Homo sapiens: one gene and its partner. The protein of the gene in region 1 purifies or fractionates together with the protein of each later gene. This does not show direct contact. Each region holds a gene or a part of one and is shown in the gene's direction. Other genes may lie near its edges. The genes, in order: SETD5 and TBL1XR1.

Region 1 (10,302 bases):
TTTTTAGATTTTAGTGAGTAATGTTTTATGAGAGGATCTAGACATTTCTAGAATTCATTACTCAGAGCAACCACATCAAATAAAGCAAGAAAATCCACAGAGCTTTACTTACTGGCTAAGGAATTTTAATTCTCTGGTGGAGCTGGAAACAGCTATAAGATGTGAAAGCGGCTGGGCGCAGTGGCTCATGCCTGTAATCCCAGCACTTCGGAAGGCTGAGGTGGGCAGATAACAAGGTCAGGAGTTCGAGACCAGCCTGGCCAACATGGTGAAACCCCGTCTCTACTAAAAAAAAATAGAAAACTTAGCCAGGCATTGTGGCGTGTGCCTGTATTCCCAGGTACTCAGGAGGCTGAGACAGGAGAATTGCTTGAACCCGGGAGGCAGAGGTTGCCGTGAGCCGAGATCACGCCACTCCACTCCAGCCTGAGCGACAGAGCAAGACTGTATCTCAAAAAAAAGATGTGAAAGTAGAGATTTTACCCTGATTTCTAACATCTCAAGGTTTCTCCACATATTTAAGAAAGTATTATAAATTTTCAAGCCAGTGCAGTATAATAGTTTCAGATGAAATGAAGGGGTTAAATAACAGATTACCATAACTCCTTAAATAAATAATAGATTACCATAACTCCAAATGGAGAGAAAGTATGGTTTTTTTCTCTCTTACGGAAAGTTCATGGTCTTTATGAAAAATCCAACCAGAAGCCTTTTCACACAGGTGCGACACATGATTGCAGATGGGATGATTCACCTGTGCATCTATGCTGTGTCTGCCATCACCAAGGATGCTGAGGTCACCATAGCATTTGATTATGAGTATAGTAACTGGTAAGACCTCAGAAACCTTTCCTAACAGGAATATCCATGTCTTACATATTAAGCTATTCACTCTATTTAAAGTCTGCTCTTGTTTCTTGCCTTTTCCTTTGTTTACTTAATCTTTTCATGACTAATGAATTTTCTGCCTAGAAATTGTAAAGGAAAAGACAGGCAAGATTTTTTTTAGAGATACGGATACCTTGTATGATACTGCTCACAAATTTCCTGACAGAAGTGTTTTCGCTTATGCCTTTTTAGCAAGAATAGCAAAATGGATATATATGTATGTATGAGACACTCCTGGAAATTACAATAGCATCCTGTTGTTATGCACAGAGTACTTATGTCAGGGACCATATAGAATGAGAATTTAGGCCAGGCGCAGTGGCTCACAGGCCTGTAATCTCAACACTTTGGAAGGCTGAGGCGGGCGGATCACGAGGTCAGGAGATCGAGACCATCCTGGCCAATGATGAAACCCTGTCTCTACTAAAAACACAAAAATTAGCTGGGCGTGGCGGCACACGCCTGTAGTCCCAGCCACTTGAGAGGCTGAGGCAGGAGAATCACTCGAACCTGAGAGGCTGAGGCTGCAGTAAGCCAAGATCACGCCACTGCACTCCAGCCTGGCAACAGAGGGAGACTCTGTCTTAAAAAAAAAGAGAGAGAATTTAATATGTTACCTCTACTTTTAATTTGTCAATTATACCCTTATAAAGCTAGGGGTGAGATTTAAAGATCCACCCTGTCCACAGAAACCATGTTATCTAGCTGTATATGACAGTGCAGAAAACCATAAAGGGCAATTCATAGATGAATATGTGGGATTTTTTAAAGTATATGCTTTTTGTTCTTTGGTCATTTGGGGCAAAATAGAGGTTATGTGGTAAAGTGATGTTTGGCCCAGGTATAAGGAAAAAAGATGTTCTGCTTAATTCATCAAGGAAAATAAAAAAGGTTTTAAGAAGGTTATAAAAGGTTTTAAGAAGTAGGGAATTAGTAGGTAAAAGTGAGGACATGGTAATCGTGGGCACAAGATGAGTATGGCCACATCAGACTTTATCATTGATAAACTGCCTGCTAAATAGCCAATAAACCACTGGGGGGATTGAATTTAGGGAGGGCTTTCTTTTTTTTTTCCCACTGACCATGGAGTAGAATTGGGGTTACACAAAGAAAGACAGAATATTGAAAGTGTTACGTCAGGCGCGGTGACTGACGCCTGTAATCCCAGCACTTTGGGAGGCTAAGGCTGGAGGATCACTTGAGCCCAGGAGTTCAAGACCAGCCTAGACAACATGGCAAAACCCCGTCTCTGCCGAAAATAAAAAAATTAGCTGGGCGTGTAGTCCCAGCTACTCAGGAGGCTGAGGTAGGAGGATCACTTGAGCCCAGGAAACAGAGATTACCGAGAGCTGTGATGCACCACTGCACTCCAGCCTAGATGACAGAGCGAGATTCCGTCTCCAATAAAAAGAAAAACAAAAGTATTTATAGGACTCTCTAATGTCTCTGTTTAACTTATTCAGAGACAATATCAGAGGAAGTTACTGTACTGATATTTTAAGAGGGTGAATGGATAATGTAACTGAATTTCAAGGGTACTGAGACAGGCATTTTGGTTGTTTCTTTGGAGCAGTAATTATAAAGTGGACTGTGCCTGTCACAAGGGAAACCGGAATTGTCCTATACAAAAAAGGAATCCTAATGCTACAGAACTGCCACTCCTACCACCTCCTCCAAGCCTACCCACCATTGGAGCAGAGACTAGACGTAGAAAAGCACGACGGAAAGAGCTAGAGATGGAGCAGCAGAATGAGGCTTCAGAGGAGAATAATGACCAGCAATCACAAGAAGTTCCAGAAAAAGTAACTGTATCCAGTGATCATGAGGTAATCGCCCCTGGTCAAATGATGATGCTATGGCATCAATCCTCCAAAGGAAGAGGAACCCGGGTTGCCGCATGGTTTAAGTAGGGGAGCTATAGTAACACTTAGTGCCCTTTATATCAATGTGGGTTTATTGTGTTCATACATTTCTTTCTGTTTTACAAAGTCAAAAACATCCTTTGCTGGTTTTGCACCAGAGAATAGGGGTTAGTTATCATCTGTGTTTACCATGTGGCCTCACATGAGTTAACAGTTTAAAGCACTAGAGATTGTTATAGAGAGTTTTAAGCTACCAGAATAAAACAGATTGATTTTTTCTCAGAGCTTGAGTACAGCTGAATATTGCCTCTATCTTAAAGGAAGTAGACAATCCAGAAGAAAAACCAGAAGAAGAGAAAGAAGAGGTTATAGATGACCAGGAGAACCTAGCTCATAGCAGGAGGGTGAGTACTGTCTGACATTACTTTGCTCCTTCTCATTCCTGCTACCTCCATCATGTGAACCTCTTCTGTTCTCTTGACTTTGTATCATCTCATTGATTTGACCTGAAGGTTATAATTTGGGCTTTTTCCGTAATAAAGATTTTATTATAATTTTTTTATTTATTTTTCTCTATACACACAGTAGTTTTGTAGTGATTATTATCTAGTGATGGTTTGAAGAGGTTGTTTTTTTTTTTTTTTTTTTTTTTACTAACAATCTGGTTTCCGCTGGGCGCGGTGGCTCACGCCTGTAATCCCAGCACTTTGGGAGGGCGAGGTGGGCGGATCACGAGGTCAGGAGATCGAGACCATCCTCGCTAACACGGTGAAACCTTGTCTCTACTAAAAATACAAAAAATTAGCCGGGCGCGGTGGCGGGTGCCTGTAGTCCCAGCTACTCGGGAGGCTAAGGCAGGAGAATGGCATGAACCTGGGAGGCAGAGCTTGCAGTGAGTGGAGATAGCGCCACTGCACTCCGGCCTGGGCAAAAGAGCGAGACTCCATCTCAAAAAAAAAAAAAAAAAAAAAATCTGGTTTCCGAAAAACTGGCTGGTCAGAATCAAAATGTATTATAGTTGGTTTGCTCTGAATTAGGAATTTTCTAGGTTTTTGTGAGTTCTGAAGTTTTTTTAAACCCTTTTAGTCATATGAACTAAAATTTTCTACTTTTATGCTGAAACCAATCCTGTGTGTTTATGACCCTGATTTGATGACTTTTTTTTTTTTCTTTTTGAGACCGACTCTTGCTCTGTCACCAGGCTGGAGTGCAGTGGCGCAATCTCAACTCACCACAATCTCTGCCTCCCGGGTTCAAGCAATTCCCCTTCCTTAGCCTCCCAAGTAGCTGGCATTACAAGCATGCGCCACCATGCCTGGGTAATTTTTTGTATTTTAGTAGAGACGGAGTTTCACCATGTTGGCCACGACGGTCTCAATCTCCCGACCTCATGATCTTCCCACCTCAGCCTCCCAAAGTACTGGGATTACAGGCGTGAGCCACTGCACCCATCCTGTTTTTCTTTCATATTAAAGTTTCAAAATAACTGACCCTTTTTGAAAAGTTTATGTTTGACCTTGCCTTTATTTACAACTATTCCCCACATTTAAAATGAAATATTTTATTTTTAATCTTCTGTTTTCCAAGTTATATGTGTCATCTTACTGGTAGTTAAATGAATTTCTGTAAATTTCCATTAAAAATACTTTTATAAAAGCTATCCACTCGTCCTCATTTGAAGCTTCCTTCTACACCAGTACTATCTCTTTCTAGACCAGGGAAGATAGAAAGGTAGAAGCCATCATGCATGCTTTTGAAAACTTAGAGAAAAGAAAGAAGCGGCGGGATCAGCCCTTGGAACAGAGCAACTCTGATGTAGAGATTACTACAACCACCTCAGAGACTCCTGTTGGTGAAGAGACAAAAACTGAAGCCCCTGAATCTGAAGTTAGCAACTCTGTTTCAAATGTTACCATCCCAAGCACCCCACAGAGTGTTGGTGTGAATACCCGGAGGTCTTCCCAAGCAGGGGTAAGAGTTGAAAAGACTTCAGCACTTAGACATCCTCACCTTTGCTAATGTCAATACCTAACTTTTGGAATTTTTAAAATCAGTGTTTTCAGCTTTGCTCCATATCACAATAAATAAGGCCATTAACTGTTTAACTGGAACCATTTCATTGGCCTATTTTATAAATGCTTATTAGAAATAACGCAAACATTTGTCGCTAGCCTCTTTAGCTCATTTAAGTGTATACATTTTTGTATTTAAAAATTAGATTTTAAATTAGTGTTTCTAATCCTTATATTTTTCATCAGTAGACATTCTGAATGCTTAAAGTGAATAGGAAATTAGACTGTTTGCTGATAAAACATTTCTGGTAAGCATCTGACCCTACTATTGCTACAGGATATTGCTGCAGAAAAACTAGTCCCCAAGCCACCTCCAGCAAAGCCTTCTAGGCCCCGGCCGAAGAGTCGAATTTCTCGGTACAGGACCAGTTCAGCCCAAAGACTAAAGCGTCAGAAGCAGGCCAATGCACAGCAGGCAGAATTGTCACAAGCTGCCTTGGAAGAGGGAGGAAGTAACAGTTTAGTAACTCCTACTGAAGCTGGAAGTCTAGACAGTTCAGGAGAAAACAGGCCATTAACAGGGTCTGACCCAACTGTGGTGTCAATTACTGGATCCCATGTCAACCGTGCTGCATCTAAATACCCCAAAACCAAAAAGGTAAGTCACAAATGCATCCTTTATAAGTCCAGTCTGGCAAGGGCTGTCTTAGTGAAATGAGAGGACCTATAATCCCTAGAAGAAACTAATCTCAATATTACTAGATTGAAAGTTCTAAAATGCTTTGACACAAAAGGCTGGAGTCATCCTGCTACCTGTTTCCTTATTTTTAGTCAGCTTAAATCACTGATAGCTGAAATTATTCCTCTCTTAGTGGGCGTGGAGAGGGTGAAGGAAGATATCCTTGTGTTCTAGTTGCTCAATTCATTCTTACTGCAGCTGCTGCATCTCCTCCTGTCCTAGTTTCTAGATGACGTTTGTCTTTATGAACTACACTGCTACCTCTTGATTTATAAACTAATGATCTCTTTTTTACCTTAGTATCTAGTTACAGAATGGTTGAATGACAAAGCAGAGAAGCAAGAGTGCCCTGTTGAGTGCCCTTTACGTATCACAACGGATCCAACTGTACTGGCAACGACCCTAAACATGTTACCAGGTCTTATCCATTCCCCGTTAATTTGCACCACCCCCAAACACTACATTCGCTTTGGCTCACCCTTTATCCCTGAGAGACGTCGAAGGCCCCTTCTGCCTGATGGCACATTCAGCTCCTGTAAGAAGGTATGTCTGTGTTTTTGTGTGTGTGTTGTGTTTATGTGTGTGTGCTTTATTTTTTTAAGCCTAAGATTCCTATCATCATGACATAAATAAAATGTTCTCTAGATAGCCACTCTGCCCATGTGAGTTTATAATGAGTTAGTTGTTCAGCCATAAATACTGATTCATCAAGAGTCTGTGAGACTGTGGTGGAATGAATGTACTGCATTTTTAGTGCTCAGATTTGTGACTGGTCACTGATGTCTCTTCTGAGAACCCTTGAGGTTCCTGAGTGAGAGCACACAGCAGTGGATGACTGGGTAGAGACGGATATGTTTTGTGTGTGCTCTTGTGATATGGGTTAACATGTCCATTTATGATTATTGTGTGAGATTAGGCCCTGGGTCCTCTAGAACACTGTTGCATAAATGAAAAAAATTAAATTGTTTTGAATCAATTCAACCGTTATTATCCACTATCATCACTTGAAGGAAATTAGAGGAAAAATCCTATTGTAATTGGCATAATTCCTGTTCCTTGATCAAATGACAAGTCGGACTGTTTATTCCAAGAGAATACAGAATCTACCCTAAAAGACTCTCTTTCCCTCTCTGTTTCTGCCTCTTTCTCCTCTTTCCAGTTACTTACTGTTTTTGGATCTAGTGGCAGTAGCGTTTGGTGGTGTTTTTGGAATGCTCTTTCTTAATTCCCAGAAGCCCTGCATATTTTCCAAAGGTGTCTCTTAGGAATAGATCACTCCCTCAGATCTATGATGTCGTTTTCCATGTTTCTAGAAGTATAGGACACCCTTTCATTTGGTCTTCCTTTGAGGTAGAGTCTGTTCCCTGGAACACCCTTTTCTCTTATCCTCAGATCTGGATTCAGGCTGCCTTCCTCAGTGTCTGCCATTGCCCTCCTCCACTGGCATCACGTACATGAGGATGCTGCATGTAGATTATTTGATGTGATGAAGTCTCCAACTCCAGGCAGGTCTTCCCTGACTCCTCCAAACTTAAAAGCTTTTCTCTTTCCCCAAAGAACAGAAGTTATTTCTCCGGGGGAGGGGGGCATGAAAGATGAGCCAAAGTGGTGTGGGATATGGAGGGGAGGAGGGCAATAGGAATCTGCAAAAAGGAAGGACACTACTGCTGAATGAGCAGCACATTGCAGAAAGTCTTTTCCTAATTGCACATCTTACCTAAACATTGGAATCACTCATTGGTTTGTTCGGGGAAACGCTCGTAGAATTCCTAAAGAGAAATTTGACCATTTCTAAGGATGTTAACTGTTGAAGCATCTTATCAAGCCAGGTCGTACAATCTCCTATTTTGGTCCTTTAAGGAGTGTAGGCAATTATTTATTACAGATAAGTAATGAAGTCTGAGCTGCAAATAATATGAACTAGGCTCTTGAATTGAAATTCCTTCTTGATAATTCTAATGCTGGGTTGCAGTCTTTCTGTTTCCATCTTTTCCAACTAGCAGAGACTTAACGAAAACCAAAAACGTGTCTAGGACTGTAACTTCAGATCTGGTAGAAAATGCATTTCTTTAAGCTTTTTTAACTTGGTTCTGCTTTTATACTTGTATCTATAGCACATCCTTAAATTTCTACGGGCAACAGATAGAAATTCCATTTAACACAAGTCCCTGTTATATTCTCCAAGTGTATCTGACTATCCTTAATCTCATTTATACAGGCTCTACTCAAGCACTTTTATCTATGTGTCATGGTTAGTCTTTAGGAAGAGTTTAGGCTGCATACACAGGATTATCATAACAAGACTATTTAAATAGGATCTTTAAAAACTGTTTAAGTCATTGCTTTATTGTGTGCTGTTCACATATCAAGATTCTATTTTTTAAAATACAGCTTTTTATGAGGCAAAATAAAATGAAATGGAATGTTTTAGCTAGAATAGAATTTGGCTTTATAGCAGTGAAGAAGAGTTCTTCTTCTAATATTGGTCTTCTTCTAATATCTCCTAATATTGGTTAGAAAGGACTTACCTAATGCAGAACCTAAGAACATTTTCATTATTCAACAAAATTGTAATAAAATTCTGAAAATCCCTCAGAGTATAAGTTAATCAGATAGATAAGAAAACCCTCCATGGGATTATTTAGAACAATGTATATTTCTAATAGGCTCACTGTTTCATATCTCACTAAAGAGGTAAGGGCCTGGCCTTGTAAGTTAAAAACTTACCAGTATAGGACAAATTAAAGTTGTATCTGTATAGTTGTACTCAGATTCTTATGCTATTTATTTTTATTTTTATCATTATTATTCTGCAACTTCTGAAAAGAAGAGGAGTTCAGGTATTTGACAGAACATTTTATGATATCCCTAGAGTTTCTAAATTGAATCATAGTTTTTAAGAAGCATTTTGCATTTTTTAGTTCCTCAGTTGGTATTTTAAAAACATTTATAAGTGGCCAACAAGGCTCTCAGTAGTGTTTCACCTTGTTCTCTCTAAACTCCTCTTCTAAACACAATGTGTATAGGGCATTTGGTCTCCAGACTTCTTAGAAAAACCAGTCTGACTGATAATGAAACAGTGTGCTTTGCATTGATAATTAATATTTCATTTTATACACTGGAGCATTATCTGTAAATCTCCAAACATAGCATTGAAATTTAGTTGAACCGGGACTCGGTGAAAATCTGCTCAGTGTTCAGTACTGTACTATAAGCTTTCTTCACATACATTATCTCACTTACCATGCATGAAATTGGGATCATTGTCCTAAATTTATATATCCAGAAGCTTTGTCTCAGAAATGTTTGGTAACTTGTCCAAAGTGAAGCAGCTAATAAGTGACACAGCCAGATTTCTTCTGGTGGGGGATAGTAGGGGTTCACAGGGTCTCACTGTTGTCCAGGCTGGAGTGCAGTGGCATCATCACAGGCTCACTGCAGCCTTGACCTCCTGGGCTCAAATGGTCCTCCTACCTCAACCTCTCGTGTAGCTGGGACCACAGGCACACCACCACGCCTGGCTAATATTCATATTTTTTGTAGCGACAGGGTTTTGCTGTGTTTCCTAGGCTGATCTCAAACTCCTGAGTGCAAGGAGTCTGCCCACCTTGGCCTCACATTCTGCTGGGATTACAGATACGAGCTACTGAGCCCAGCCTCACAGCCAAGTGTCAAGCCAGGGCTTCTGGACTCCAAAACCTGTATTGCTTCCTTGCTCTTTCGCCATAATAGCGAGACCTTTAAAATATTTATCCATCTTTGAGCCTCCCAGAAAACTCCTTTGCAATATATTTTAATAGAGGTTCAGAGAAGGGAGAAATGTTCTTTTGATTTTAACAACTTGCTGAGTAGGTGCATCTAAAATTAACTTATTATCCATGAGGTTAATTGTATCTTGTTAGATACAAACAAATGTCCATGTTCCTTTTTTATATGAGTCCTGAAATATTGTAAAATTATACAACAGAACCTGGAGGAGTAGGTTTGATTGTATTTGCTGTGTTTCACCTCATAGCTAACCATGGTAGCATCTTTCTTCTAGAATACTCCTGTTCTGATTTTATGTTCCCTTTTTGTAGTCATCAGATCCAGAATGTAAATTATTTTACAAGTACATCTACTAGACCCTGGAAATATTAAAAAATTACTCAGATAGGAAAGCTTAGTGACCCCAAATGAGTGTTTTCTGCTTTGAAAAGAAAAACTTAAAGGTGGCCATAACAAAAGATTTTTCACTCCTGAGCCTAATTTTTCCATTTATAAAATGAGTGCTTTGGACAAGATGACTTCTAAGTTCTCTTCTAAGCTTTAAGGCTATATGTATGGTTCTGACAATTCATCTTTACATCATTATTCTGTATCTAAGATAGTTCATTCTTCGGATTTTTTATTTTGTTTTTGTGTTTGCTTTTCAGAGACCTGGTTGTATCCTAAAATGTTTACGTGATTCAAATTACCATTGAGAGCTCTTTTTTATATCCTTGTTCACTCTTCCTTCCAAGTGTTTACAGGTTTACAGTTTCAGTTTTGCTTTCATTTGGCCAGCCACAATGACATTTGTATGATGTAAGATTTTTTTTTTTTTTTTTTTTTTTTTGGTAAAATTTTTGTGGATTGTTTCCTAGGTTTCTAAGAGGGAAAATCTATGAGAATTGCTCTCTGGTGAAGAGAGTATTTACTTACCTGTAATACATGTTCTCTAAAGGTATAAATTATAATAATTCACCTTTGCTCTTCCTATTGGGGGAGGGTCTTACTCAGAAATTGATGTTTATCAAAATTCGATCTGTCTTATGTCAGG
Region 2 (13,084 bases), about 170 Mb from region 1:
TTTGTTTTGTCTTGAGATAGAGTCTCACTATGTCGCCTAGGCTGGAATGCAGTGGCAGATCAAGGCTTACTGCAGCCTTGGCCTTCCTGGGCTTAGCTAATCCTCCCACCTCAGCCTTCCAAGTAGCTGGGATCACAGCTGCATGCCACCACACCCCACTAATTTTTGTATTTTTCTGTAGAGACCGGGTTTTGCCATGTTGCCCAGTCTGGCCTCAACCCCCTAGGCTCAAGGGATCCACTTGCCTCAGCCTTCCAAAGTATTCCTGGGATTACAGGCATGAGGCATCACGCCCAGATCATATGAAAGTTTTTAATGTTAATGTTTAGATGTATTTATCTTTCTTTTTAAAATTAGTTGATTATTTTTAGAGATAGGGTCTTGCTGTGTTACCCAGGCTGGACTCCTCAGCTCAAGAGATCCTTTGACCTCAGCATTCTGTGTAGCTGGGTCTACAGGCACATGCCACTGTGCCCGGCTAGATCTTTCCTTTTTGATAGCTTTTTTTTTTTTTCATAGCTTAATACATTTTTCCTTATAGATATCACTGAGGTCTGATATTTTTTCATGAAGTATCTAAGTTTTATTCCTTTACATTTATTTTTTTAGCCCCTTTGGAACTGATTTTTATATATGGTGTGAGGTATAGATATTTCCATTTGGGTAGTCAGTTGTCTTAGCACCATTCATTGTCCCCTTTCTGTTTTCATAATGCCGGTTTCATATACCTAGTTCATGTATATGCAGTTTGTTTATTACCTTCTCTTTTATTCCATTTACGTATTTGCCTTATCTGAATCAATAGCATAGTTTTAATAATTCTAACTTTATAAATCCCTCTTGTTGTTATTCTTCAAAACTGTTTTTCTGTTCTTGCCACTTTAGTCATCCATATTTCCAAAACAGAGCACACAATTTTGGATTTTGTTTATGAGTGCCTTGAATTTATAGGTGAAATTAGGGAAAATCGTTATTGAGTTTTATCACCCATAAATACGTTATACCTCCATTTATTTGTCTTTTATTCCTTTGGTAAAGTTTTATAGTTTCTCTAAGGATCTTTTTTCCTAATGTGTTTTGAGGTGCCTTATGGTTTTTATGTTACTATGAATGACCTCTTTTAAAAAATACATTCCTTTTATATACTAGTTGTTGCTCACATTTAGAACATTTTCAGTGAACTCATTTAGTCCATTGTGACAAAATCAATTTTAATGAAATTTGGGCATAGAACTGTAGAGTGCTAATGGAAGATACTACAAGACATTGAAGGGCATTTGACCAACTGTTCATATTATTTTGTTTTCACTATTGTGTACCAAAAGTCTTACTTTTTCAAACTTTGAAAATAGTAAAACAGTGAATTTTCAGTGCAGGAGAAAATCATTATCCTATTGTTGTATATACATCCAGGTTTTTTGTTTTCCCCTTTCTTGTATGATGAGTTGCCTAAGCATTTGATGAGTAAATTGTAGAAGTCTTGTGCCAGCATACATACAAATTTGAGGTAGATGCCGATGATCTGAGCCATTGGCCTTTTTAAATGTCTTAGCTCTGCCTTGTTGCCCATAATGTTTTGGTTCGTTATAGCCCAGTTCAAGCTTAGAGATTGGTAAGTGCTTTTTAAAAGAAAGTTGTTTTGTTTTTTTAACCCCCAAGTTGGCTGTAGATTGAATGTCTGTAGGTTGACTGTAGATTTTATTTTTTATATCTCAGCAAACTAGATTTTGTTGGTTCTACTTTTTTCTCTCCTCATTAACTATAGATACTCAAAGCCTACTATACTTGAACTTAATCTCATAAATTATGAGAAATTTTAAGTAAACAAAACAGTTGAGCCTTCCCAGCCTGATAATCAGTAGCAATGTGTCAGTACCAATGCATCTGTGATTTGTGCCACATTACTGGGCTAAATTTGAAGAGGAAAGCTCGGTCAAACATTCTTCCAGCTTGTCATCTTGGATAGGCTGAATGGGAGGTATTTTCAAGGTGCATGGTTTGTTGCCATGTGCTTTTAAGTAGATCTGCCACCTCTAGCTTGACTTTAGGTTACCATAAAGCTGCAGAGGTCACTTTTCTGATTTGTCAGGGCCGAACACCTGAAGCATATATTTCAGTTTTCATAACAGGACCTCTGATCTTTGTCCTGTTATATTGACTGGTTTCATAGGAGAATATATTTTTGGATTGAGTTTTAATTCTTCAGTAGCAGCTGAATAATAAAATAACGTTGTTACATTTATGATTCAGCTTAATGAATGATTACATTATTAGTATTCCTGCCTGTGTTTTTTGTTTAAACATATAACGTCTTTCAAGAATAGTGTACATATCTGTCTGGGCACTGTGGTGCATGCTTATAATCCCAACATTTTGGGAGGCCAGGGTGGGTGGATTGCTTGAGGCCAGGAGTTCAAGACCAGCCTGGGCAACACGGTGAGACCTTGTCTCTACAAATAATTTTTTAAAAATCAGCTGGGCATGGTGGCATGCACTTGTAATCCTAGCTACTTAGGAGGTGGAGGCGGGAGGATCACTCTAGCCCAGGAGTTAGAAGGTGCAGTGAGCTATGATTGCACAGCTGCATCCATCCTGGGTAACAACAAGACCCTGTCTAAAGAAAAAAAAGGAACATACATACATTATTTTAGCTTCTTTTATAATCCCCTAGCTTAGGAACTGGTCAGTAAATATAGAGTGAATAACAGATTTATACTGGAATTATCTTTACTAGTTTGTTATACTTCCTCTTTAAGATGTTTTGTCAAAGAAATTCTGAATTTATTTTGTTTCTCTACATGTTAGCTAGACTCATGTATCATTTAGCAACAACAAAAACTTATTTCATGTGATAGACTGACTGTTTACTTCTAGCTATTGTTGGCTATGTCAGAGAGACCAGATACCTTAGCCAAGAATGGTTATCAAGACTGGAGAAACTGAATATGTGTGTGAGTAATCTTTTGAGAACAGGCTGGTATTATCTTTTTGTAAAGGGATCATATTACATTTCTAGAATTTCAGAACTTATTTTTATAGTTGAAGCTAAGTCCCTCCTCTGATTGCTAGAAATAAAGCTATGTAATATTTTTATTTCAGCATTTGGATTTATTATAATATGTATTACGATTTTTAAGATTTTGTTTTTCATTCTTTTAGACAGGTGCTCTAGTTCACAGCTATAGGGGAACAGGTGGAATATTTGAAGTTTGCTGGAATGCAGCAGGAGACAAAGTTGGAGCCAGTGCATCAGATGGTTCAGTAAGTATAGTAAAGTGTTTCCAAAGAGGGTGTGGGTGGGTATTCACATCAGAATGCAGCTTATTGTTAGTGATACCAAAGTGTTTTTTTCAAAATAAATTTTAAGGTATGATACTGATTTTTTTTTTTCCTGAGGCTGTAAACTTTTCATGTGCGTTGGATTCAAATAATGTAAACAAAATTTAGGCTGTCCTTACCAAATACCTTATAATCTAGAAATGGACAGTTATTTTTAATATGAACCTTCATTTATGAAATTAGGTATACCAGAGGAACATTCTGAGAAGGATTGAAATGTTTAATGTGTATTTCTACCTTCTCCTCTTCACAGAAGAATTTTTTTGGCCCAGGGAAGGCAGAACTAGAGGCAGTTGGTTCCTGTGTTGAGGAATGTGTGATACTGAAAGATTTTCAGGATGAGGTTAGCCAACTCTTTACAACAATGCAAATATGGCTTCCAAAGCTGTAGAAGCACCAGAAGGTGGGAAAAGGGTAGCTATTTACTGATGCTGTAGCTGAATATAATCTGTGATATCTTTCATTAGGGTCCAATAGATAGGAAATGGTCTGTTTTGAGCATTTTCCCCCTCCTTTTTAATCAACAGAGAGTATAAAAATCCTAGCCGTGGTTCTTCCCCCACAGTTTGAGCTCATGGTTGTTCTCTTGATCTGCTTAAATGATCTGTCTGATTTCTGTCAGTTAAGTGCTCATTTCCATGATTATTATGCTTTACCAATTTTATAAACTTGGAACTAAGAAACATTTCAAATTGTACTATAGAAAAGTTAAACATAAAATGTACAATAAAATTCTGAATACACTGGTTGATTATTTTAATTTCTTACAGGTTTGTGTATTAGACCTTCGGAAATAGCGCTACTAGTTGGAAGCCATGGACCGACTATGAATGTGTACATAGCCAAAATGACTGTCCCTGACCCATGTACTGCTATAGTCCCACTTGAACCATGGCCAGTCCACTACAGCCAAATCTAAAAGAAATATATACATACAGTGTATATAAACAAAATTGCACCCTGAAGATGACAGAGTTTTGTCACAGCTTGTGAATTCTGTTCACCAAGTGCTGGAATCTAATCTGCTGTGCCCCTAAAATAGCATTTAGAAGTTTTGGATATGAAAAACAGAAGAGAGAAAAATATACATTATAAAAGCAGAACATACATGTACCAGTTTTTGGATACTAAATGACAGCCTTGTTTCTCCCCTTTGAATCAGCAGACACCATGGATTATATTCTTTTTTTCCCTTCAGTAGTGAGCAGTTTGTATGTACAGAGAAAATGGACTTACAAAAACTTGCAGCAGTAGTTTGTTCTTGCTTTAAAATTTCGTTTTTGGTTTAGATTATGGATGCATGAAGTAAGGGAGTGAATCAGTTTCTTGTTTATATTTTTTTCACCTTTTAAACAAAAAATTCTTTAAAATATTTTAATGCATTCTTTTGAAGAGGTAGATGTTTGGTACATTTTATGGCTCCCAGAGCATATATTCAGTTGGTGCATGTTGTGGAAGGGGGAATTGGAAATTAAATGAAAACCTATGACTTTGGTCATGTCAATCTGTAAGACACATCAGTAAAAGGGTATTATGCTCTGTTGGTTTTGTTTTTTTGTTTTGCTTTTTTTTTTTTTTTTTCTTTTTTGTTTTTTGGTGATGTGGCTTAAATGCAATAGTTTCTTTTTTGGGACATATTTCTGCCAATTAAAGACTAGAAGGGCACAACTTTTTTTTTAATTACCATAGAGAAGATACATTAAAAAAAATCTTCTGATGTTTTGTAGCCATAACTAAATTATGGTAAAAATGTGCACTATTGTGAAAAGGAGCAACGTAGTTTTGGGTTTTTTGTTGTTTGTTTGTTTTGCTTTGTTTTTTAAGAGATTAAAATGTTTCTGGATAAGGATTAGCTTCTCGAAGTGTCCATCATTCTGTGTAGAAGCTTAAATATGTAATGTAACCAAACTCCAGTATTAAAAATCTCTCATGTTGTTTTCTTTATACAAAGCAAGATAACGGCATATAACACTGCCATTACATGGCAAAATGTTTGCTACCTTAGTTTAAAAAACAATCTCAAACAAAAGACTTGCTTCAAGGTGTTTTTAAATAGCAGTGATTCAGAATTTTTTTTAATGAAAGTATAATTGCACTAACCTTCTTCCTGCTGCTCTGATTCTGCATTTGTGGTACTTGTGACTACGTTTTTTCAAATATAGATAGATTTAAGCTGCTAATTTTTTTTTTTTTAGTAATCACTACTATATCATGTCTTTTACTCTGTTTATAATATCAAGTATTTTCTTAAAGATATAGATATTAAACCTTGTGCTCATGCAACTTAGAGTAACATATACAGACAAATGATTGCATGAGGCCATGTTTATATGTGTGACTAATAAGGCTTGTCATGATTAACATAATCCAGGTATGTCATTTCTGAAGAGAATAGTCATCAAATTTATATCTCGAAGATTTTAATTAAGGAATTGCTTATTGTTGAGCTTAGCAAATTAATAACACTATTTCTGTCACTAATTATTTTGAGGCCTTTTAGTACTAAAATTTTAACCTGTGTTCTAAGTAGAAACTGATTTAACCCAAGTAATGCAGCTTTGATTGATTTCAGCATTCGTTGCTTTGCTATTTTTACAAAACAGCATTGATTGAAGCAAGTCTTGGTTTTACTAAGGTAGGGTAGCATTTGCTATTGGTAAAGAGAATAAATACACTTAATTTCACAATACATTGTTATATGTACCCCAGTTGTTGTTAGTGGGGACTATGATACTGTAATAATATTTTTAAAAATTTACATCAAGAGAGGCAGTCATTCACGATGGTTTTGTGCCAGCTCTTTTTAGGGTTTTGGATCACATTAGAGATATTTAGAACATATTACCCTGTGACTTACGTAGGAAACCTAATATGCTGAGTATCTGGCACTTGAATTCCTGCTTTTATTGCTGGAGGTCCACATCTGTGGTTGACCTCTGTTATTGTTTAAAAAAAATAAATAAAAATTAAAAAAATCTGTGCAATAATTTTAAAATGTGCTCCCAGGAATAGACACAAATGTTTTGAGTATCTTTTAAGCTGCATTTTCCTTTAGTGATGCATTTGTCAATTGCACTGAATTTAAATCTGAAAGTCAGAGGTGATTATTGATAGTACTTTTGTATTTTGATATGGACAGTTTATTCATTTGCATACAGTTATTGACTTTTTCCCAGCTGATTAAAAGATAGTCAAGAAATTCTGCAATATAGCTGCCAAAATAGACAGCTACATTTTTATGATATTGTCATCTTTTCTGTTTTTTTTTTCTTTTTTTTCTTTAGCTATTTTACTTAAGCATAATAGCCACAATAGGACATATAAAAGATTATAAATACAGAGCTTTATTATCCTGACGTCTTGGGTCTTTTAAGTATATACTTTTCTGAAAGGTATCCATTTTGTAGGCTTGGGTTCTTCATGAGCATACGATTGTTTATTTTTGCTGCTGTTCTCAACATCATCATTGCCTGCTGATGTGCCACGATGCTGCTCCAATAGACAGCAATAAGATTGTCTCTAATTTGAGCAGTAACATGATTGCAAGAGACCAAGTTTCACAGCTTGTAAAGTTCTGTATTTGGGATTCTTGCTTATTTTTCCGCCTGTGTTTTTCTGAGAACTTATTCCTGATGATCAATTGAATCCAGTAGTTTTTCTATGCTATTTGTTGTTGTATAAGCTACTGTAAGAAACTTATCATAAGGAAAAATAGAAAGGAAAACTTGAATCAATACTCATTGATTAAAATGGAATAAAGAAAGAGCAGCTGCCACTTTTAAACAACATAAAGGAATATCTTTTTTTGTCTCCGTGTAGGAAATCCCATAAGTTCTTATATTTGTTCCAGTTCCCATTTCCTGCCATTGACCAGATAACATCATTGACTTTCAAATGACTTTTAGAAGTGATAACTCTTAATTTCCTAATAGATACTAGATTGTATTGAATTCTGTTTTAATTATTCTCTAGGTAAGTATGTTTTAGGATTAAATACCTTTTACAGATACTGAAAGTGCCTCCTTTTGTGGTGTAAAAAACAAATTATGGTGCAAAAAGTAATCACTAGATTGAAATACATGAAGGTTTTTTGCTTTTTGACATACGAAAATGTCAAGAGAAAGGCCAAAGATTTGTACTTTTTCACTTACAAAGCACTCCTTTTTCCCTTAAACTTCTTTCTGTCAAATTAGATTTAATGAGAGAGTACTATTTTTAAGGAGCTATCTGTTTATGTAGAATGATTTTGTTAAGAGTAATGTAAACTATTATTGAGTAGAGGCCTAAAGAGGACTGTGCATTTTTGCTATTTAAAGGAATCACAAATGATCATACTTAAGTGAGCAAAAATGACAAGTTTTACTAGCTAAGTAGAGAAATAAATCTCAAATGCAGCGCTACAATTTTCATTATCTTAAGTACATTGTACATTTCTACAGAACCTGTGATTATTCTCGCATGATAAGGATGGTACTTGCATATGGTGAATTACTACTGTTGACAGTTTCCGCAGAAATCCTATTTCAGTGGACCAACATTGTGGCATGGCAGCAAATGCCAACATTTTGTGGAATAGCAGCAAATCTACAAGAGACCCTGGTTGGTTTTTCGTTTTGTTTTCTTTGTTTTTTCCCCCTTCTCCTGAATCAGCAGGGATGGAAGGAGGGTAGGGAAGTTATGAATTACTCCTTCCAGTAGTAGCTCTGAAGTGTCACATTTAATATCAGTTTTTTTTAAACATGATTCTAGTTAAATGTAGAAGAGAGAAGAAAGAGGAAGTGTTCACTTTTTTAATACACTGATTTAGAAATTTGATGTCTTATATCAGTAGTTCTGAGGTATTGATAGCTTGCTTTATTTCTGCCTTTACGTTGACAGTGTTGAAGCAGGGTGAATAACTAGGGCATATATTTTTTTTTTTTTTGTAAGCTGTTTCATGATGTTTTCTTTGGAATTTCCGGATAAGTTCAGGAAAACATTCTGCATGTTGTATCTAGTCTGATGTACTTATCCATCTCATTACAAACAAAAACACACAGACTGCATTTGTAGCTCTGTAATCCTTGAATACGGAAGTAAATTTTCTTCTTTCCTGACTTTGACATTGTAGCTATACTGTTTCCATTTTTGTTTTTACAAATCCTTTGGGTCTAATTCTGTGAGCCTACCTATAGCACTGGATTAAAATGTCTGCATCATTTCTTTAGTTATCCAGTTAACTTTAAAACTGTTGTAAAAGTGTAAACCAGCCCATGACAGGTTTTTGTACATGTTAAAGAACTTCATTGTTCAGTTTTCATGATTATTGTGTAAGGAAGACTGATGTAGATGTTCTGTGCTGTCCTGGACCATGTTAATTACACTTACGACGTATTTTAGTTCCACATCACAATGATTTGTCCCCAGTGACCCTTTTATCCTTTCTAGGCACATTTCTTGTTGTTGTTGTTGTTGCAGTTCCCCTTTGCATTGTATTGCTTTGACAACTGTAATTTGAATCAGATCTGAAAGAGGTCCAGAATAAAATATATTTTGATATTATGTTGGCTGTGTACATATATAAAACCTTTGATGTCTATGTAGTTTATATAGACTATTTACTAGTCAGGTAAAGAGAGAGGGATGGTATTTCTTGTTTACAGTTTGTTTACATTTTAATTGCTTTTACTTCTCCAGTGTTCTATTGTAGAATAAACCTTTTTTTCCAAGTTAGCCTTCATAACCTATAACACATTCATTCTCTCCCATACTGGTGTTACTGATTAATAACTGCCATCAGAACCCAAACCACTGTTTTTCATAAACGTATTGTTTCCCAAGATATATACTTTAAGCCCATAATAAAATTACAAATTTTACTATTTTTATTACTTCTTGCAGGAGATAAGATTTTTTTAAATGAAGGGGTTATTTACTATTTTTATTAAAGTATAATAGAGCATCTAATCAGCTAAGGGATTGTAATTTTTAATTCTTTTGAAAAATAAATATTGTATTTAAAAGACGTTATTTCACAGAAGCTGAAAAAGAGACCTTAGATAACATTTGTTTGGTTAGCCACACGGTTGAGCACAAAACAATGTGTAGATGTGTTGAAGATTAGGGCAGGAGGCTCAACTTCTCGGTGACCTTTTTTTGCTTCACAACAAGCCAATTATAGTTGAATCATTTTCTCTCTTAGCTAGTTGTTACTACAAACTTTATAAGAAAAACAACTAGACACCTTCTAGTTTTAATTAATACCAACTCCTTTAGAGTTAGAGACTTTTTAAAAAGAATCATTGAGCATATTTTCTTTTTTTTTTTTTTAAGAATTTACACTCTCTAGGTCTTCTATTTTTCCTGTTTATTTCCTTAAACAGAAATAAATTCAAGCATAGTTTTATGTTTTATTAGAAATAAGCCACTGCAGTTGCTAGAACTGACATGCTTTCATTTTCAAGGGGTTAACTTTTATTGCATGGCATAGATTATTAGTAATATCCTGCATTGTATACTTTTCCAAAAAGGGTTGGACTCCTAAGGATTAGAATCCTTATAAGCTTGAGGGAAAGCTGAAACTAATTTGAACAGTAATAGAAGGGATTATTTTTAATTTCATAGTTAACACTTTACAATGGATTAGATTTATTACCTAGTATAATCCGTAGCAGATCAGATCAAAGTTTACTGTTTTACCAATATATTCATTTGAAAAAATACAGTGGAGGAAAAGACACTTTAGATGGTAGTTTTATGGTGCTTTTCTCTGCTGTACCAAAGTGCTTTGTCATCAATGAAATGTTAACCCTATGCTACTTTTTCTGCATGCTTCTTAAATGTCATCTTAATGCTTAATTGTCCTAACTTGTAATATTTTTGTATTAAATTTTTTTAGGAGTTCCTTGTAATTTCTTTACAATTTAAAATATATTAAACACAAAGTGTTTAGTAAAGTACAGAAGACAATTACTAATGTTTCTTGGTTGTTGGGTTTGTATGATCCATTGGGCAGACAATTTATATTTTAAGAACTAAGACCAATGGGGTGGAATCTATACCGAAAAAGATATCACAGTCTTATTTAAAAAAAAAAAAAACAAACTTTCTGACATACTAATCTAATGTCAGAACGAGCTGCCTTAAGAGATGTTGTGCTGTCAGAAAGCCGTAAAGCATAGGTTGGATTGCCACTGGGCCGGGCTCCTGTGGAGAAAACAAGCACTGCCTGAGCACCTCAAATAGACTTGCATTAAAAAATCTAGTCACATTGAACTTCACAGTCTGAAATCAGACATTTAAAAACAGGATCAGCTTCCAGGATCTCTCACATTCAATATAGGGGATTTTGAAGAATCTACACACTGCCAAGACAAGACCTTTTCCCTAAGCTTTTATTGGTTTAATTTACGTACACTTGCTGGACCAGATCAATTATCTGATTTTCCAACCTGGGTCCATGAGGAACAGTGCTCCCCATAGAGAGGGAGGAATAGCTAAAACTCCTAGCAGAATGAAGAGCTGCCATTTGGGATGGCCTAGAGTCATCAAATAATTCAAGTTAAGTTTAATATGACATAAAAATTAGCTATGTAATATGGATTTTAATATTTCCACCTGAAATGGTTGAAATATTTTAGTGTGTGGGAATAAACTGAAGTTGGACAGATCTGGTGTTGAAGTAAATGAAGTCTGATAAGAGTCAATTAGCGGTAAGTTCATTCTACTTCTTAAACAGTGTTGGTTAACTTGGAATGTGCGTTGGAATCTTTTATGCCTTGTCCTACCCATTGACCAATATGGTAGCACAAGGTATGTGTGCTGCTTTTCATATGCTTGTTTGGTTTTGTGTCATAATGTGGGAGGTGGTTGTCACTAGCATGTGGTATATTTATTGTAGAGCACATGCTGGTTAAAGAAATTTAAATACAAGGTATAAATAATAAATGTTCATTTTCAAACTCCCAACCAAGTCCTTAGTGGTATCCACTGTTAACAACTTGACATATGTCCTTCTAAGCATTTTCAATACCTACTTTAAAAAAAATACAAAAGAGATCATAATCATTGAATTCAGAAACTCACTTTTTCACAGAAACCATCAGGGACCATTGTCCCATCCACTTAAGTACATTCAAGTACTTCCCTATACTGTAGATGTAGAATATACTGTATGGTTTAAAGAGCATGAATTCTGCCTGACTGACTACCTGGGATGAATCCAGACCAGCTGCTTGGCCTAAGGAGTTGCTGTCTTGGTTTCCTTGTCTGTAAAATGGGGATAATGATAGTTACTTTTCTCATTGATGGGTTGTGAAGATTACAAAGTTAATATATCTGAAGCCCTTAGAGAATGGTGCCTGGTTATATAAAGCACACTGTATATTACCAAACATTTTTATTCCTAATGGTAAGATTTTATTGTACACCAAGATTTAGCCCCCTATAATGTAAATTTACTTTTTCACCGTTTACTATTACAATGGAGCAATAAAATATTCATATCTACAGGACAAATAGAACAGTCAATTCTGATGTACACTCGTTTAATACACACTTCAAGGATTCTTTAAAACTCGCCTCCCTTGGACGGGCATGGTGGCTCACGCCTGTAATCCCAGCAATTTGGGAAGCCGAGGCGGGTGGATCACAAGGTCAAGAGTTTGAGACCAGCCTGACCAACATGGTGAAACCCCGTCTCTACTAAAAATACAAAAATTAGCCCGGCATGGTGGCGCACGCCTGTAATCCCAGCTTCTTAGGAGGCTGAGTCAGGAGAATCGCTTGAACTCGGGAGGTGGAGGTTGCAGTGAGCCGAGATCGCACCATTGCACTCCAGCCTGGGTGATAGAGCGAGACTGTCTCAAAAAAAAAAAAAAAAAAAAAAAAAAAACTTTGCCTCCAAGCCACTTTCTGGCACTAACAAGGTATGATTTCAAAAGGAGCCATTTAAGAATTTGTAGAAGGGAGATTGAAGAGTGCTTTGTATATTTACTCAGTGTAGTACAGGAAAGAGAGTAATCTAGACCTGTAAGTAACAATCTGGGTTATGGGTTAGCAGAAAACAACTAAATTTTTAAGCCTATGCTCTTTAGCATTTAATGACTAAATACTAATGATGTGATGAAGATTTTGTTAAACATGGATGAAAATTTTTCTACTGTAGAGCACAATGTACAGGCTAAATCCAATTATAAACTTCATGGAACTACCAGACTTTTAATAGCATATATTAATATTGCTGGAAGCCAGATTCCTGGTCTGTTTGCTAAATTAGCAGACATTTGGATTTTTTTGTAGGGCTTTTTAAATTTTAAGACTATTTTCACCCATTTTGCCTTTCAAAATCCTGAGTACTCTTTTTTTTAATTCAGCAAATATTTGTTGAGTAATGTTTTCTAAGAAGTGTGTCTGCCACTGGATATATGGTAGTGAGCAAGAAAAAGGCTCTGTTCTTGTGATATGTAACTACAACGGAAGGTAGTTTATTAAGTGCTGTAACAAAGAATTTGGTTGAAGCCTGCTGGGCGCGGTGGCTCACGCCTATAATCCAAGGCTGAGGCGGGTGGATCACCTTAGGTTGGGGGTTCGAGACCAGCCTGACCAACATGGAGAAACCCTGTCTCTACTAAAAATACAAAATTAGCCAGGCATGGTGGTGCATGCCTGTAATCCCAGCTACTCGGGAGGCTGAGGCAGGAGAATCGCTTGCACCTGGGGGGGCGGAGGTTGCGGTAAGCCGATATCGCGCCATTGCCCCCCAGCC

Evidence for each region.
Region 2: the proteins of SETD5 (region 1) and TBL1XR1 purify together in Homo sapiens (affinity purification with mass spectrometry; 2 studies listed by BioGRID). This does not show direct contact.

The regions. Positions count from the first base shown.
Region 1 is NC_000003.12:9,442,587-9,452,888, forward strand, and holds part of SETD5 (histone-lysine N-methyltransferase SETD5), read left to right. Parts: intron 1-721; coding exon 722-831; intron 832-2,461; coding exon 2,462-2,714; intron 2,715-3,070; coding exon 3,071-3,154; intron 3,155-4,463; coding exon 4,464-4,721; intron 4,722-5,099; coding exon 5,100-5,420; intron 5,421-5,801; coding exon 5,802-6,044; intron 6,045-6,893; coding exon of another isoform or gene 6,894-6,959; exon of another isoform or gene 6,960-7,006; intron 7,007-10,302.
Region 2 is NC_000003.12:177,016,550-177,029,633, reverse strand, and holds the end of TBL1XR1 (F-box-like/WD repeat-containing protein TBL1XR1), read left to right. Parts: intron 1-3,159; coding exon 3,160-3,261; intron 3,262-4,109; coding exon 4,110-4,136; 3' UTR 4,137-10,290; downstream 10,291-13,084. UniProt on the Homo sapiens protein: F-box-like protein involved in the recruitment of the ubiquitin/19S proteasome complex to nuclear receptor-regulated transcription units. Plays an essential role in transcription activation mediated by nuclear receptors.